Regions from separate parts of the Homo sapiens genome. Here region 2 is linked to region 1. The links come from fine-mapping of genetic effects on gene expression. Tissue or cell type: whole blood. Region 1 holds a variant in brackets; the other region holds the start of a gene. All regions are shown on one strand. Distances are between the middles of the regions.

Region 1 (8,105 bases):
ACTCCCTTTTGCGGTCTGCTACGTCGTGGGTGTCTTCCCAGACACTGGCATTACCGCTTGACCAAGGAGCCCTCAAGCGGCCCTTATGCGGGCGTGACAGAAGGCTCAGCTCTTGCCTTCTAGGTAACTTGTCACAATGTGCTTTCAGCACCTGACCCTATACCCGCTGGTTATTCCTAGGTTATATTAGTAATGCAACAAAGAGTAATATTAAAAGCTAATGATTAATAATGTTTATAATAATGATTGATAATTGTCCACGATCATCTCTATATCTAATTTGTATTATGACTATTCTTATTCTATTTTCTTTATTATACTGAAACAGTTTGTGCCTTTAGTCTCTTGCCTCGGCACCTAGGTAATCCTTCGCCCACAATATATAATAATTAAAAAAATTAAATTTAGCTGTTCATGGTAGCACCTGTAGTCCCAGCTACTCAGGAGTCTGAGGCAGGAGAATCGCTTGAACCTGGAGGCGGAGGCTGCAGTGAGCCGAGATCGTGCCATTGCACTCCAGCCTGGGTGACAGAGCAAGACTCCGTCTCCAAAAAAAAAAAAAAAAAAATGAGGAGACAGAGAAAAATGGAGGAATAGAAGACTGCAGCTATCATCCCCCTCCACAAGGACACCAATTTAACAACTTCATGAGGTGTTAAAAATCAGGTGAGCACTCATAGTACCTGCTCTTAACTTTATAATGCTGAAAGAGACACCGAAGAAATAGCAAAAACAGTCCTGAATCACTGACGCCCCTCTGCCCCTGCAGCTGTGTTGTGGTACTGAGGATATCTCTGCGTGCACGGGAGGGAGAACACAGCAACTGTGATGCACTGAACTCAGTGCTGTCCTGTTACGGCAGGAAGGAAAACCACACCCAACTCAGCTGACGCCTGCCCATGGAGGGAGCATTTAATAACAGCCCTACCCAGAGGGGAATCACTGATCCCAGTGGTCTAAACTTGAGTTCCTGCAAACCTCACCACCGAGGGCTACAGTCTGGGTCTCCAAGTAAACTTGAAAGGCAGCCCAGGCCATGAAGACTGCAGATCTCAGGCGAGTTCTAGTGCTGAACTAGGCCCAGAGGCAGTTAACTGGGAGGGCAGGTGACATACTGAGACACCAGCTAAGGCAGCCAAGGGCGTGCTGGCGTCACCCCTTCCCTAACTCCAGGCTGCACAGCCCGTGGCTCCAAAGGAGACCCTTTCCTTCTGCTTGTGGAGAGGAGAAAGAAGAGTGGGGAGGACTTCATCTTGCATCTTGGATACCAGTTCAGCTGCGGCAGAATAGGGGACTGGGAAGAGTCGTGAGGCCCCCATTCCAGGCCCTAGTTCCCAGATGACATTTCTAGACACACCATGGGTCAGAAGGAAACCCACTACCTTGAAGAAAAGGACTCAGTCCTGGCAGCATTCATCACCTGCTAACTGAAGGTTGGCAGGACCCTGAATAACCAGCAGTTACATTTAGGTACTATGTCAAGGCCCTTGGTTGAGCCTCTGAGACTTGCTGGCTTCAGGTGAGACTCAGCACATTACTAGCTGTGGTGGCAACAAGGCAAAACTCCTTCTGTTTGAGAAAAGCAGAAGGAAAAGTAAAGAGGGCTTTGTCTTGCACCTTAGGTACCAGCACAGCCACAGTGGGGTAAAGCACCAAGTGGGCTCTTGAGGTCTCCGATTCCAGGACTTGACTGTTGGACACCATTTCTGCACCTGCCCCAGGCCAGAGGGGAACCCATTGCCCTGAAGGGCGAGTCCCAAGGCAGGAAGCATTCAACACAAGCTTGACTTAAGATACCTCGATGCTTAAGGGAATATTGGAGGTAGCCTGGCAGTACTCCTCGTGGCCTGGGTTGACAGTGGCTATGGGGTGAGGCTCCTCTGCATTTGGGAAGGGAAAGGAAGAGTGGGAAGGACTGCATCTGGTGGTCTGAATACCAGCTCAGCCACAGTACAATAGAACACCAGCTAGACTTCCAAGTTTTTTTACTCTAGTCCCTGATTCCCAAAAGGCACCTCTGGACTCACCTGGGGCCTGGGGGACCTCACGGCTCTGAAGGGAAGGACACAGGCCTGGCCGGCTTTGCCACCAGCTAATTGTAGAGCCCCAGGGCCTTCAGCAAACATAGGCAGTAGCCAGGAAGTGGTTACAGCCAGCCTTGGCAAGCCCCACTGCTGTGCTGGCTTCAGGTCTGACCCAATGCAGTCATAGTGGTGGTGGCCACAGGGATGCTTGTGTCACTCCACCGCCGGCTTTATGTGGCTCAGAACAAGGAGAGTGAGACTCTTTTTGCTTGGAAGAAAGTAACAGAATGGAACAGGAGTCTCTCTGCCTGATAATGCAGAGAATTCTTCTGGATCTTTTCCAAGACCATCAAGGTAGTACCTCCATGAGTCTGCAAGAAAACAGTGTTACTGGGATTGGGGTGCTCTCTAAATCAGATACAGCTTACATCACAATATCCAAGTACTTTCAAATATCTGGAAAGCCTTTCTAAGAGGGATGGGTACAAATAAGCCTAGACAGTGAAGACTACAATAAATACTTCACTCTTCAATGCCCAGACACTGAAGAACATTTACTAACATCAACACCATCCAGGAAAACATGACCTCCCAAATGAACTAAATGAGCCACCAGGGACCAATCCTGGAGAAACAGAGATGTGTGACCTTTCAGGCAGAGAATTCAAAATAGCTGTGTTGAGGAAACTCAAGAAATTCAAGATAACACAGAGAAGGAATTCAAAATTATATCAGATACATTTAACAAAAAGATTAAAATAAAAAGAATCAAACTGAGATTCCAGAGCTAAAAATGCAATTGGCATACTGAACAATGCATTAGAGGCTTTCAGTAGCAGAATTGATCAAGCAGAAGAAAGAATTAGTGAGCCTGAAGACAGGCTATTTGAAAATACACAGTCAGGGCCAGTCATGGTGGCTCATGCCTGTAATCACAGCATTTCAGGAGGTCGAGGCAGAAGGATCACTTGAGCCCAGGAGTTTGAGTCTAGCCTAGACAATGTAGTGAGACCCCCCCCCTCCTTAAAAAAATAAAAAAGGCCAGGCGCAGTGGCTCATGCCTATAATCCCAGCACTTTGGGGAGGCCAAGGCAGGTGGATCACCTGAGGTTGGGAGTTCGAGACCAGCTTGACCAAGATGGAGAAACCCTATCTCTACTAAAAATACAAAATTAGCCGGGTATGGTGGCACATGTCTGTAATCCCAGCTACTTGGGAGGCTGAGGCAGGAGAATAGCTTGAACCTGGGAGGCGGAGGTTGCAGTGAGCCAAGATCATACCACTGCACTCCACCCTGGGCAACAGAGCCAGGCTCCATCTCAAAACAAAACAAAACAAAAAAAAGAGCTAAAGAGAGAGTTAGGCCCCAATACAATAATAGCTGGAGACTTCGACACCCCACTTTCAGCACTGGATGGATCTTCCAGGCAGAAAAATCAATAAAGAAACATCAGACTTAATCTGCACAATAGACCAAATGGATCCAGTAGATAATTACGGAACATTTCATCCAATGGCTGTGGAATACACATGCTTTTCCTCAGCATATGGATCATTCTCAAGGATGGATCATTTTAATAAGAAATTTAAAAATTTCTTGGAACAAATGCTAATGGGAGCACAACATACCAAAATCTATGGGATACAGCAAAAGCAGTACTAAGAGGGAAGCTTATCGTTATAGTGCCTACATCAAAAAAGAGGGAAACTTATAGTGCCTACATTAAATAAACAATCTAATGATGCATCTTAAAGAATTAGGAAAACAAGAGCAAACCAAATCCAAAATTAGTAGAAGAAATAATAAAGATCAGAACAGAAATAAATGAAATTAAAATGAAGTAAACAATACAAAAATCAATGAAACAAAAAGTTGGTTTTTTGAAAAGTTAAGCAAAATTGACAAGCTTTTAGCCAGACTAAGAAAAAAAGAGAGATCTAAATTTACCTTCAGTATTGAAAATAATGCGAAGATGAAATACATAGCATATCGAGTTGGCATTATGTGTAAAGGGGCAGAAGCCATACATGATTAAATAATTTGGCATAAGAGATTTCTTGTATTTTTGGCCTGTGTTTTCACTTCTATGATCTTCAAAACACTCACAGTACTTGTATTTGGGGAGTGGTTGTGGTCTACAAATTTCGTAAGTACCTGCTGTCCATCTGAAAGTCTGGTTATTTCTCAGCCATTGCAATTAGGTGATTTTCTACGTTTGCAGCACGAATAACAATTAACTTTTAAACTGTTTCACTGTTAAGTAGCCTCATACACTTAACACAGCCTTTTTGCAAGGGAACAATTTCACAGATCTCTTCCATTGTGTGGTAAGCAATACAGTAAGAAGAAATGATGTTCAGCTTCCCCAATACCAAATCTGTATTAGTCAGGGTTCTCTAGAGAGACAGAACCAATAGGATATGAGAGGAAATTTATTAGGGAACTTGGCTCATGCAATTATGGTGGCTGAAAAGACCCACGGTGAGGCCATCCGAAAGCTGGAGACCTTGGGATACCGGTAGCATGGTTC[A/G]GTCCAACTCCAAAGGCCTCAGAACCAGGAAAGCTGATGGTGCAACTATCCATCTGAGGCCAAAAGCCTCAGGATCCAGGGGGCCACTGGTGTAAGTTCCGGAGTCCGAAGGCTGGCAAACCTGGAGTTCTGGGTCCAAGACAGGAGAAGAAAAGTCTGTCCCAGATCTCAGAGAGAGACCAATTTGCCTTCTATATTTGTTCTGTTTGGGACCCTGGTCAAGTAGTTGGTGCCTCCCAACAATGAGGGCAGATCATCCCCCACTTAGTCCACTCAGACTCACATTCTAATCTCTGAAAACACTCTCACAGCCACATCCAAAATAATGCTTTACCAGGTTTCTAGGTATTCCTTAATCCATTCAAGTTGACACCTAAAATTATGTCCACTGTCCACCCCTTGTCAATTTGGCACTCATTTGCATCCCCTTAAATCACACTTAATTTCCAAATAAAGACAAAAAGGCTATGGTTCTGCTTGACATGACACAACTAACATGATGCAACCATCCTGTGTACAACCAAAAAATACACTAATCCCCTTCCCCAGAATTTGGCTTTCAGGGTTTCAACATTGAGGATTTTAATCTTTTGGGATTGTAATTTTCAGGATTTTAGACATGAGGGATTTAGACTTTAGAAATTTTGAACTTTAAGGATTTTGATCTTTTGGGACATCAACATTTGGGGTTTGGCATTCAGGATTGTGTCTTTCAGGATTATGATTATGAGGCAGAATTGCTTGAACCCGGGAGGCAGAGGTTGCAGTGAGCCAAGATCACACCACTGCACTCCAGCCTGGGTGACAAGAGCAAAACTCTGTCTCAAAAAGAAAAAAATTCCATTGTTGTCTGAGAACATACAGTGTATAATTTCTATTCTTTTACATTTTGAGGTGTGTTTTATGGCCCAGGTTGGTCTACCTCAGTGAACGCTCCAAGTGAGCTGACAAGAGTGAGTACTCTGTTGTTGCAGGACGAAGCAGTCTATGGATGTCAATTATATTCAGTTGATTGGTGGTGCTGTTGAGTACAACAATGTCCTTACTGATTTTCTACTTACTGGATCTGTCCTTTGCTGATAGGCATTGAAGTTGAGATCTCCAACTATAATAGTGGATTCATCTATTTCTCCTTGCAGTTTTATCAGTTTCTGCCTCATGTATTTTTTGATACTCTTGCTGACACTCTGATTTTATTTTATTTTATTTTATTTATTTATTTTGAGACGGAGTTTCACTCTGCTGCCCAGGCTGGAGTGAAGTGGTGTGATCTCAGCTCACTGCAACCTCCACCCCCAGGATTCAAGTAATTCTCCTGCCTCAGCCTCCCAAGTAGCTGGGATTACAGGCATCCGCCACCATGCCTGGCTAATTTTTGTATTTTTAGTAGAGATAGGGTTTCGCCATATTGGCTAGGCTGGTCTCAAATTCCTGACCTCAGGTGATCCACCTGCCTCAGCCTCCCAAAGTGCTAGGATTACAGGCGTGAGCCACCACGCCTGGCTGACACTCTGGTTTTAAATAAGCATTTTATCATTCTATTTCTCTCCTCTCTTAGCATAACAATTATATTTCTTTAAAAAGTTTTTTAATAGTGATTTAGAGTTTGCAATATACATTTACAACTAATCTAAGTCAAGTTTCAAATAACACTATACTGTGTCATGGTTGTGCGGATACTTCATAACAGGGTATTCCCAATTCCTTCCTCCCATCACTTACACTCCAGTCATTCACTTCAGTTATCCCTAGGCTATAGCTATCCACACATTGTTGCTATAATTCCTTTAAATAAAGTTATCTATTAAATCAATTAAATTTTTTAAAAAGATTTTACCTTCCTGTTTTTTTGCTCTGATACTCTTCCTTTCTTTATGTAGATCTGAGTTTCTAATCCATATCATTTTCCTTCTCTCTGGAAACCTTACTTTAACATTTCTTGCAAAGTATGTCTCCTGGCAAAAAAAGAATCCTTTTTTTTTTTTTTGAGACAGGGTCTCACACTATCACCCAGACTGGAGTGCAATGGTGCAATCTCAGCTCACTGCAACCTCCACCTCCCTGGCTCAAACAATCCTCCCATTTCAGCCTCCCAAGTAGCTGAGACCACAGGCACACACCACCATGCCTGGCTACTTTTATATTTTTTGTAGAGACGGGGTTTCGCCATGTTGCCCAAACTGGTCTTGAACTCCTGGGCTCAAGCAATACACCTGCCTTGGCCTCCCCAAATGTTGGGATTATAGGTCTGAGCCACTATGCCCAGCCTTAAATTTCCTTAGTTTTAGTCTTCATTTCTCCTTCACTATTTCTTTTTTTCAATTTGATTTTCTCTTTGCTTTTCTCCTTCACATTTGAAGGATAATTTTGCTGGATAAAATCCTATGTTTGTGAAGTTTTTCTTTTAACATCATAAATATTTCCATTCTGGCTCTTGCTTGCATGATTTCTGACAAGAAATCCAATGTTATTCATGTTTCTCTATATGTGTTTTTTTCTTCTGGCTTCTTTCAAGATTTTATGTTTTTGGTTTTCTACAGTTTAGATATACATCTAGGTGTCAATTTTTTGGTAGTTATTCTGCTTGGCCTTTTCTTAGCTTCCTGGATCTGTGGTTTAGTGTCTATTATTCATTTCAGAAAATTCTTAAACATTATTTCAAATTTTTTTTTTTTTTTTTTTTTTTTTGAGAAGGAGTCTCCCTCTGTTGCCCAGGCTGGAGTTCAGTGGCGTGCTCTCGGCTCACTGCAAGCTCTGCCTCCCGGGTTCATGCCATTCTCTTGCCTCAGCCTCCCGAGTAGCTGGGACTACAGGCGCCTGCCACCACTCCTGGCTAATTTTTTGTATTTTTAGTAGAGACGGGGTTTCACCATGTTAGCCAGATCTCCTGACCTCGTGATCCGCCCACCTCGGCCTCCCAAAGTGCTGGGATTACAGGTGTGAGCCACCGTGCCCGGCCTATTTCAAATATTTCTTCTCTTCCTCTTTCTTTTCCTTCTGGTATCCCCATTACACATGTGACACGACAGAGTCTCGCTCTGTCGCCCAGGCTGGAGTGCAGTGGCGTGATACCAGCTCACTGCAAGCTCTGCCTCCCGGGTTCACGCCATTCTCCTGCCTCAGCCTACCAAGTAGCTGGGACTATAGGCACCCACCACCACTGGCTAATTTTTTGTATTTTTTAGTTGAGACGGTGTTTCACCGTGTTAACCAGGCTGGTCTCAATCTCCTGACCTTGTGATGTGCCCGCCTCGGCCTCCCAAAGTGCTGGGATTACAGGCGTGAGCCACCGCGCCTGACCACATGTGACACCTTTTATATTGTTCTCCAGTTCTTGGATATTCTGTCCCAATTTTTTTTTTTTCATTCCTTTTTCTCTTTGCATTTCAGTTTAGGAAGTTTCTATTGACATATTATCAGGCTGTTTCTTTCCTTGGCCAAGTAGACTAATGATAAGCCCATCAAAGGCATTCATTTCTGTGAGAGTGTTTTTTTCTTTATTTCTAGCATTTCAAATCTTTAGAGTTCCCATCTCTCTGCTTATATTACC
Region 2 (8,104 bases), 280 kb after region 1:
GGAAAACAGTATGACAGTTCCTCAAAAAATTAAACATAGAATTACCATAAGATCCAGCAATACCACTTCTGGATATACATATATATACCGAAAAGAATTGAAAGCAGGTCCTGAAGAGATCTTTGTACACCCATGTTCCCAGCAACATTATTTCCAGTAGCCAAAAGGTGGCGCAACCCAAATGTCCACTGTTAGATAGATGAATGGATAAACAAAATTCATATCCATACAATAGAATATTATTCAGTCTTAAAAGGAAGGGAATTCTAACACATACAACCTGGATGAGCTTTGAAAACATTCTAAGTGAAATAAGCCAGTCACAGAAAGACAAATCCTCTATTATTTCACTTATATGATGTATCTAGAGTAGTCAAACTAATTGAAACAAAGTAGCACAGTGGTTGCCAGCATCTGGATGGAGATTGAAAGGGGAGTTTAATGAGCATAAAGTTTCAGTTTTGCAAAATGATAAAGTTCTGCAGATCGGTTGCACAGTAATGTGCATATATAGTTAACACTACTGAACTGTACATTTAAAAACGGTTACAGTGGTAAATTTTGTTACATACATTTTATGTTACATGTATTTTACCACAATTAAATATTTTTTAAAAATCCTTCCCCAGGTATCACTCCCCCTCCTCCCTGCTTCTGTGTGAATTAACAACTCCCTCCTTTGCACCTCTACATTATCTTGCGTATACCACCATTATGGCTCTTATTACATTTTTGGTAATTACGTGTTTGACAGGATAAGGGTTACTGTCCCATTTGCCCCATCCTGGGACAGGTGAATACTTATCCACTCCTGGGGTCCTGACTAGAAGCTAGGAAAATATACTAGGGTCTTTGGCAAGACAGAGAAAAGAGGCAGTGACCCCTATGGCATAATTGGCTAAAGAGGACCGTCGTTATCAGCAAGAATATATCTTGGATCTTGTAGATGTTTCACTCTGAGGCTGGACCTGGAAGGACCATTTTTCTTCAACAATCCTTTTATAGGCAGGCTCTGACAAACCTAAGTAACACTTCTTTCCTCCCTCAACACACAAAAACATCTTCTCCATTATGAGGACAGCCAGCTGAAATGACTGGTCATACCTGGTCTGACCCACAGGAGGGAAAAGAGAAAGATGTTCATTCAAGATGGATTCAAGGGCCGGGCACAGTGGCTCACGCCTGCAATCCCACCACTTTGGGAGGCCAAGGCTGGCGGATCACAAGGTCAGGAGATCGAGACCATCCTGGCTAACGCAGTGAAACCCCCGTCTCTACTAAAAATACAAAAAAAAAAAAAAAAAAAAAAATAGCCGGGCGTGGTGGCGGGCACCTGTAGTCCCAGCTACTCGGGAGGCTGAGGCAGGAGAATGGCGTGAACCCGGGAGGCAGATCTTGCAGTGAGCCGAGATCAGGCCTCTGCACACCAGCCTGGGCAACAGAGCGAGACTCCGTCTCAAAAACAAAAACAAACAAACAAACAAAAGATGGATTCAAGATAGAACAGCTGACCTAATAAGGTTCTCAGGGGGGACAATAAGGAACTATTTTTGCTTCCCTTAGACTCCTTGTATGTAAGTTTGATACCTAATTAAATTTTTTTTTCCGATAATGGACTGTAACTTTCTGCCCTTCCAAGGTCATAGTCAAGAGGTTACATTTGTTTGCTCCATCTTTGCTTCTAGATGGGAGCTCCTTTAGGGGCGGGACCAGACTTTATTCATCCTTGGATCCCCTGTGCCCACTGGTCCTGGCACATAGCAGATGCCCAATAAATGCCAAATAAATGACTGAATGTTTAGAATGAGGGTCTTTACAGCATTGAGCCTTTCCAATAACCCGGAGAGAGGCTTTTGGCCGAGCAACTAGTCTACCCCAGAGAGAAAGGACAGTCTGAACTAGAGAGCCACAGGGAGTAGGAAGGTCTGCTGGGTATGGGGAGCAGAGGGAGCATGAGAAGAAAACGTGGTTCATTACATAGCCCAGGTTGAACAGACAGATGAAAATCGCACCCTCCAGCTTCATGTTCCACTGTCTGACTGGTCATTATATAGGGCCGACATTTATCTGGTCTCCAGGCAAATTCTATAATTTCAGCTCCGTCTGAAGCAACACAGTAACACTGACTCAGTGGCCTAGATTCCACAAGTGCCACATACCTTGCTTTAGCTTAAATCAGGCATTGTTTTGTCTGGCTGCTAGGACTGGCTCAGGTCTGCTAACAATAAGATGCTTATGCATGGCCCTTTCATGCAGTCAGTCTTTTAAATTTTTTTGCCTCTCTTGAAATCCTGGAAATGATTCCTAACAACGGTTAATCTAAAAATCAGCTGGTTTTGGTCAATATAATGGCGCCCCTTCGAACTCACATTCATGGAATATGGAAGCTGGAAGGAAGAGTAGAAACTAGTTCTGCTTCTCAGGTAAGGAAATCCGTGCCCAGAGAGTTGGGCTGGGTTCCAGCCAGTTAAAACTAGAACTCAGAGATGCTGTCCCGAGCCCTTTTACTTCTGCTGCCTGCCCGCAATTGCGGTCACACCTGCTTCAGACACTTCCAGCTCAATCCTCCCTCCATTTTCTGTGCAACTAGGGTCCTCTCTGGAGAGCTCTTAAGCCATCAGCTCTAGGAGAGAAGTGGGCAGACACAAATCTTTCACAGGTTAATTTTCCTTGGAACATTCTGGGTGATTTTTTTGTAAAGCCCGATTCTCAATGGTGTTGATTTCAGGGTAGTGTTCCTCACTGAGAGCTAAGGAGGCGTTGCAGAAGTGCGCTGATTAGCTAGAATTGACCATAAACAGAGTGGCGCGGCGGATGGGCAAAGGGTGGGCAGCGAACTGGCCCAAATCATCTGTGCATCACCTCACAAGCACCAACTGAGCACTTACTGTGTGCCTGGGTAATCCACAGCTGCCTAATTAAGAACGAGCAGCTGCCTTCCAACCCTCCCCTGGCCCGAGGAGCCCTACTAACTGGCAGATTGAGGGACTTCTGATTCTCATCGTGGGTCTGGCCTTAACTAGGGTCGCGACTCCAAGCAAGTATTTAAAATTCTCCAACCCAGGTGGCCTGAGGCTTGAGAAGAAATAAAAGGCTTCTCAAAGGGATGACAGTTTCGGGAAGTTTTTTTTTGGGGGGGGGACTGGAAAAATACCATAAAAGGCATTTTGGGGGTCACACACACACAAGAGCAGAAGCGCTGTGAGCCGCCCTGCAGGCTCCCTGCCCCGGGAGCCACCTTCCACCCGCCCCCGGGCGGAGGCGGCCAACTCCCGCCCAGCGGGCTCCCCAGTTCGGCCCCGAAAAGCCGAAAGGGGGGCGCCTTTGTCTATAAGCGCCGCACGGGCGCTCCTGATTGGCTGTAGCTAAGCAGGGCTTTCTTCCGCGCTCCTTCGGAGCGCTCCCTCCAGCGTCGCCGGCCCCGTTCCATTTTCACAGCTCCTCCTCCCCGGCCGCGCGCCCCTCCCGCCCCGCGCGCGCCTCCTCTTTCTCGCGGCCGAGTTCAGCCCGGGCAGCCATATGGGGGATACGCCAGCAACAGACGCCGGCCGCCAAGATCTGCATCCCTAGGCCACGCTAAGACCCTGGGGAAGAGCGCAGGAGCCCGGGAGAAGGGCTGGAAGGAGGGGACTGGACGTGCGGAGAATTCCCCCCTAAAAGGCAGAAGCCCCCGCCCCCACCCTCGAGCTCCGCTCGGGCAGAGCGCCTGCCTGCCTGCCGCTGCTGCGGGCGCCCACCTCGCCCAGCCATGCCAGGCCCGGCCACCGACGCGGGGAAGATCCCTTTCTGCGACGCCAAGGAAGAAATCCGTGCCGGGCTCGAAAGCTCTGAGGGCGGCGGCGGCCCGGAGAGGCCAGGCGCGCGCGGGCAGCGGCAGAACATCGTCTGGAGGAATGTCGTCCTGATGAGCTTGCTCCACTTGGGGGCCGTGTACTCCCTGGTGCTCATCCCCAAAGCCAAGCCACTCACTCTGCTCTGGGGTAAGTCCCGCCGGCGCCCCCTGCGCCCCGGCCTCCGTGGCCAGGCCGCGCTGGGGCGCGCGAGGTCGCCGCTCGCCCCTCGGCTGCGGGCGGTGCGCAGCGACCCCCGGTCTCCCCTCGCCTCCCGCTGCGCGCCGCGGCCCCCTTGGCATCCAGTTTTCCGTCCCTTGGGACGGGCAGGTGTTTCTGTCCCAGTATTTCAACTTCCGCCCCCCCCCCGCCCCCACCCCGCCGCGGTCTGCCTGAGGAAGCGCATTTGCCGGCTTCCCGATGGAGAGCCGGGGGGGACCCGGAGTCCTGCGGTGCCACCGCTGTGCGCAGAGGCGCGCGAAGGGAGAGGCTCGGCACAGGCTGAATCGGCTCCCAGCGAGGGAGGACGGGCGGGCGATTGTGTCACCTCTGCGGTCCCTGGGGCTCTCCTATCCCCCCCATCACCTCCGCGGGTCACGGACCTTGGGGACAGAGATGAGGACAAGTAAGGGAGTTGGACCGGGGAGGAGAGACCCGGCACAGGATAGAGTCTTGGTTTACGCGCACCAGATGGAAGATACCGGTTCCCCTCTTGCCTCTCCAAGGCCCCTGTCCCTGCCCCCTCCGCAATCTTCTATGCCCATTTGCAGTTCTCGGTGAAGTTTCTCGGTGAGCAAACCGATCCCATGGCGAGAGCGGTCTGACCCTAGCACGAAGCTCCGACTGTGGCTGTGCAGAGCCTTCTCCAAACCCTGTTCCCATGTGGCCAGTGGGAACCTGTGGCTCTCCTGGTACCCTCCTTCCGTGCACCCCCACTCCTGCCAGTAGGGAAGGGAGCCCGGGCGCCGACCACCATTCCCCTTCCCCTGGGCCCCAGGGACTGCGTGCCCACCCTACACGACCCCAGTCGTTGATCTTTGAACCACTTCGCAGCCGCCCTGGCCGCAATAACTGGTTTTGGCCTCCTTTACTGAAGCGGCAGTAGCCAGGACAAAAGGCACAGGCATTGATATGCTGAGTGAGAATTTGACGAGGTAATCCAAGATGCCCTTCCAGCTCCCGTTTCCCTGATCTCTAGGGGCGGGCAGGAGAAACACAACCTACTTTTATTTCCAGAGGGGAAGAGGAAGGAAGAAAATAAGACCTCTTTCTACAGGGCTTTTTTGGCATGGTGCCAGCTGCAAATGCCTAGGTAGATAATGGGGCCACTATGGTTCCAAGCCTTCCCTTGAAATCCTGCAGTCCCTGCTCTTGGAAGTAAACCCATCCAGAAGTGGGTACCTCTTAGGGGGTGTGGCTCAGGGAGGGCATAGCAGAGTTGACGGATGGTGAGAGAGGTAGGATCTTTGGGGATCCCTAAAGCCTTTAAAGTCTCCCCAAAGCTCTGGGAAATCTCCTGCTTCATCTTTCCTTCTCTCAGTGCACCTCCTCATTTCTGTGTCCTTTTCACCATCACCTTTATGTGTTGGTTTAATTCTCCAACTGACTGTAGACTGTATGATGTTCAGCTGTTGCTTCATCAACACACTCCGACACTGCCAACCAAAGCCCTTATTGCCCAGAGTTCTCCAACAAGCTCCTCTCTCCCCCCTGCTTCCAGAGGCAGGGCTGGGCTTGGTCCTCAGAGCCTGGTGACCTCTAGGGGATTGAGGCTTATCTTTAATAGCTGTGGTGTTCAGAGAGTGCTCAGGGAAAAGTGAGCACTTAAAATATTATCTTACATGCCTAGGGCTCACTGGCTCCACTTCTTACAGCCTCTGAGCCCCAAGACCCTGGCACTGGACCAGGAGCCACAAGGACAAGGCCCCTCTCTCCAAGTTTGCCAGGTCACCTCTGCCCTTTCCGGACCGCTCTCTGTGGTGAAGATAGAACCTTTGTTCTGAAAGATCTTGGCTTAGAGGACACCTCCCAGGCCCCAGTGTCCTCTAGCTTCCTTAGAGAAGTTAACACACTGAAGGAATCTGGTTTCCCCTTTGTGACTCATGTCCCAAACCCCATTCCATACCTTCCTGGATAAATTCTGCCTGTGCTTCATCTGCTATTTCCTAAGTCTTTTTTTTTTTTTTGAGACAGAGTCTCGCTCTGTCGCCCAGGCTGGAGTGCAGTGGTGCGATCTCGGCTCACCGCAAGCTCCGCCTCCTGGGTTCACACCATTCTCCTGCTTCAGCCTCCCAAGTAGTTGGGATTACAGGTGCCCGCCACCACGCCCGGCTAATTTTTTGTATTTTTAGTAGAGATGGGGTTTCACCGTGTTAGCCAGGATGGTCTCAATCTCCTGACCTCGTGATCCACCCACCTCAGCCTCCTAAACTGCTGGAATTACAGGCGTGAGCCACTGCGCCCGGCCCGTAAGTCTTAATTCTCTCCCCACCTTCATTGCCTCCCTAAAAAAAAAAATAGCAGACAATGGTAGATATTAGAGTTTTAAGGTCCAAAATTGTGACTTAGAAACAGTCCAAACAATGGGTCTTATCTGATGAATAGCTACTGCCTCTGCTGCTTTTTTTTTTTTTTTTTTTTTTTTTTGTGAGACAGGGTCTTGCTGGAGTGCAGTGGCACGATCATAGCTCACTGCAGTCTCAGTCTCCTGGGCTCAAGCAATGCTCCCACCGCAGCCTCCCAAGTAGCTGGGACTACAGGTGTGCACCACCACACCTGGCTATTTTCTTTTTCATTTTTTTGTAGAGATGGGGGTCTCACCATGTTGCCCAGGCCGGTCTTGAATTCCTGGGCTCAAGCAGTCCTCCCAAAGTACTGGGATTACAGGCGTGAGCCACTGTACCCAGTCTCATGAATAGCTTTTGAGGGAAGAAATGAGGGACAATCAGAGACCAGCTAAGATCAGCTGTGCTGATGGCTAGGCTACATAGTAAGCAGAGGGACGAGGCAGACCACTGACTCAGGGTTATTTTCAGTGAAAGCCCTGGTGCCTTGATCCACAAATTTCCCCCCACTGAAGGCCCTTTTTCACCACCTCCCTACTGGTTATGTGTAGCATTAGGGCCAAGTTCATGCCCCAGTGGGCTGCTCATGCACTTCAAGGACCTGACTTGTAGAGGAAATAGGCTTAGCCTGTCCATTGCTTGCCACCCTCCACACCAGATGAGGTTGTGCTGGAAACAAGAGGCATCTATGCAGTGCACCCAGCAGGGGATGTGTTGGATGTGCAGTGTGCAGAGAGTAATTTGTGTGGTGGTAAAATGTCATCCGTGAAAGAGCCATCAAATTGTTAGTTCATCAAGTTGTTAGTTCTCCTTGGGGCCAGAGCATGTTGTTTTCCCTTTTTATCCTTTTCGTTTTATGAGTGGGCAGGCTGTCAGGACAGAATGCTCTTGGTGCCCCCAGGTCCTCAGCAATGCGTTCATGACTTTCAAGGACAGAAAGCGGCCGGGCATGGTGGCTCACGCCTATAATCCCAGCAGTTTGGGAGGCCGAGGCGGGCTGATCACAAGGTCAGGAGATCGAGACCATCCTCGCTAACACGGTGAAACCCCATCTCTACTAAAAAAAATACAAAAATTAGCCGGGCGTGGTGGTGGGCACCTGTAGTCCCAGCTACTCGGGAGGCTGAGGCAGGAGAATGGCGTGAACCTGGGAGGTGGAGCTTGCAGGGAGCCGAGATTGCGCCACTGCACTCCAGCCTAGGCGACAGAGTGAGACTCCGTCTCAAAAAAAAAAAAAAAAATGGACAGAATGCAAACTCCAACTAGAGGAAAAACCTGCATCTGAAGGCTTGAGCTCACAAAAATGCCTGCTTGAGAGTTTCTGGCCAAAGGGACAGTTAGTCAATGCCCTGAATCCCAAGATGGGTAGAGCAGGGAGTGAGGCCTTGCAGTTACTGTGTGGACGTGTGAGTCCTGGGGCTGCTTCCCAGCGGAGCCTCCCCTGATGGCCTCCAGACATCTGGCTGTTGGCTCCCAGAAACATCAAGGCCTTTTCTGTTTTTTCCCTAAATGTCATCCGAGTCCCCTAAATGTGTCCCATAGTGACATCATGACTCTTTTCCTCATGAGATAACTTCAGTGACAGCACCAGGCATGCAAAGCAGTAATTTTCCCTGTTTCCTTTGATAGATCAGCCATCCTTCTATCCTGTCTTGGCGCAAACGTGACCATTGTTAAGGCAGATATAGCGTTCTCTGGTGCCCTGCTGGG

Evidence for each region. PIP is the estimated chance that this variant, and not a neighbour inherited with it, causes the effect.
Region 2: SCD5 starts here. The variant in region 1 is fine-mapped to the expression of SCD5 in whole blood (TOPMed, PIP 0.97).

The regions. Positions count from the first base shown.
Region 1 is chr4:83,077,020-83,085,124 of GRCh38, reverse strand. No RefSeq gene overlaps it. Among named protein-coding and RNA genes, the nearest start is that of PLAC8, 34 kb to the left of the region's middle. RefSeq lists an enhancer at 723-772. The variant A/G (reference allele first, on the strand shown) is at 4,556.
Region 2 is chr4:82,794,182-82,802,285 of GRCh38, reverse strand. It overlaps SCD5 (stearoyl-CoA desaturase 5), which reads left to right and starts at 3,490. Exons shown (of 5, transcript NM_001037582.3): 1 at 3,490-3,980. The coding sequence starts at 3,749. RefSeq lists enhancers at 2,332-3,048, 3,049-3,766, 4,743-5,264 and silencers at 3,135-3,554, 3,885-3,934.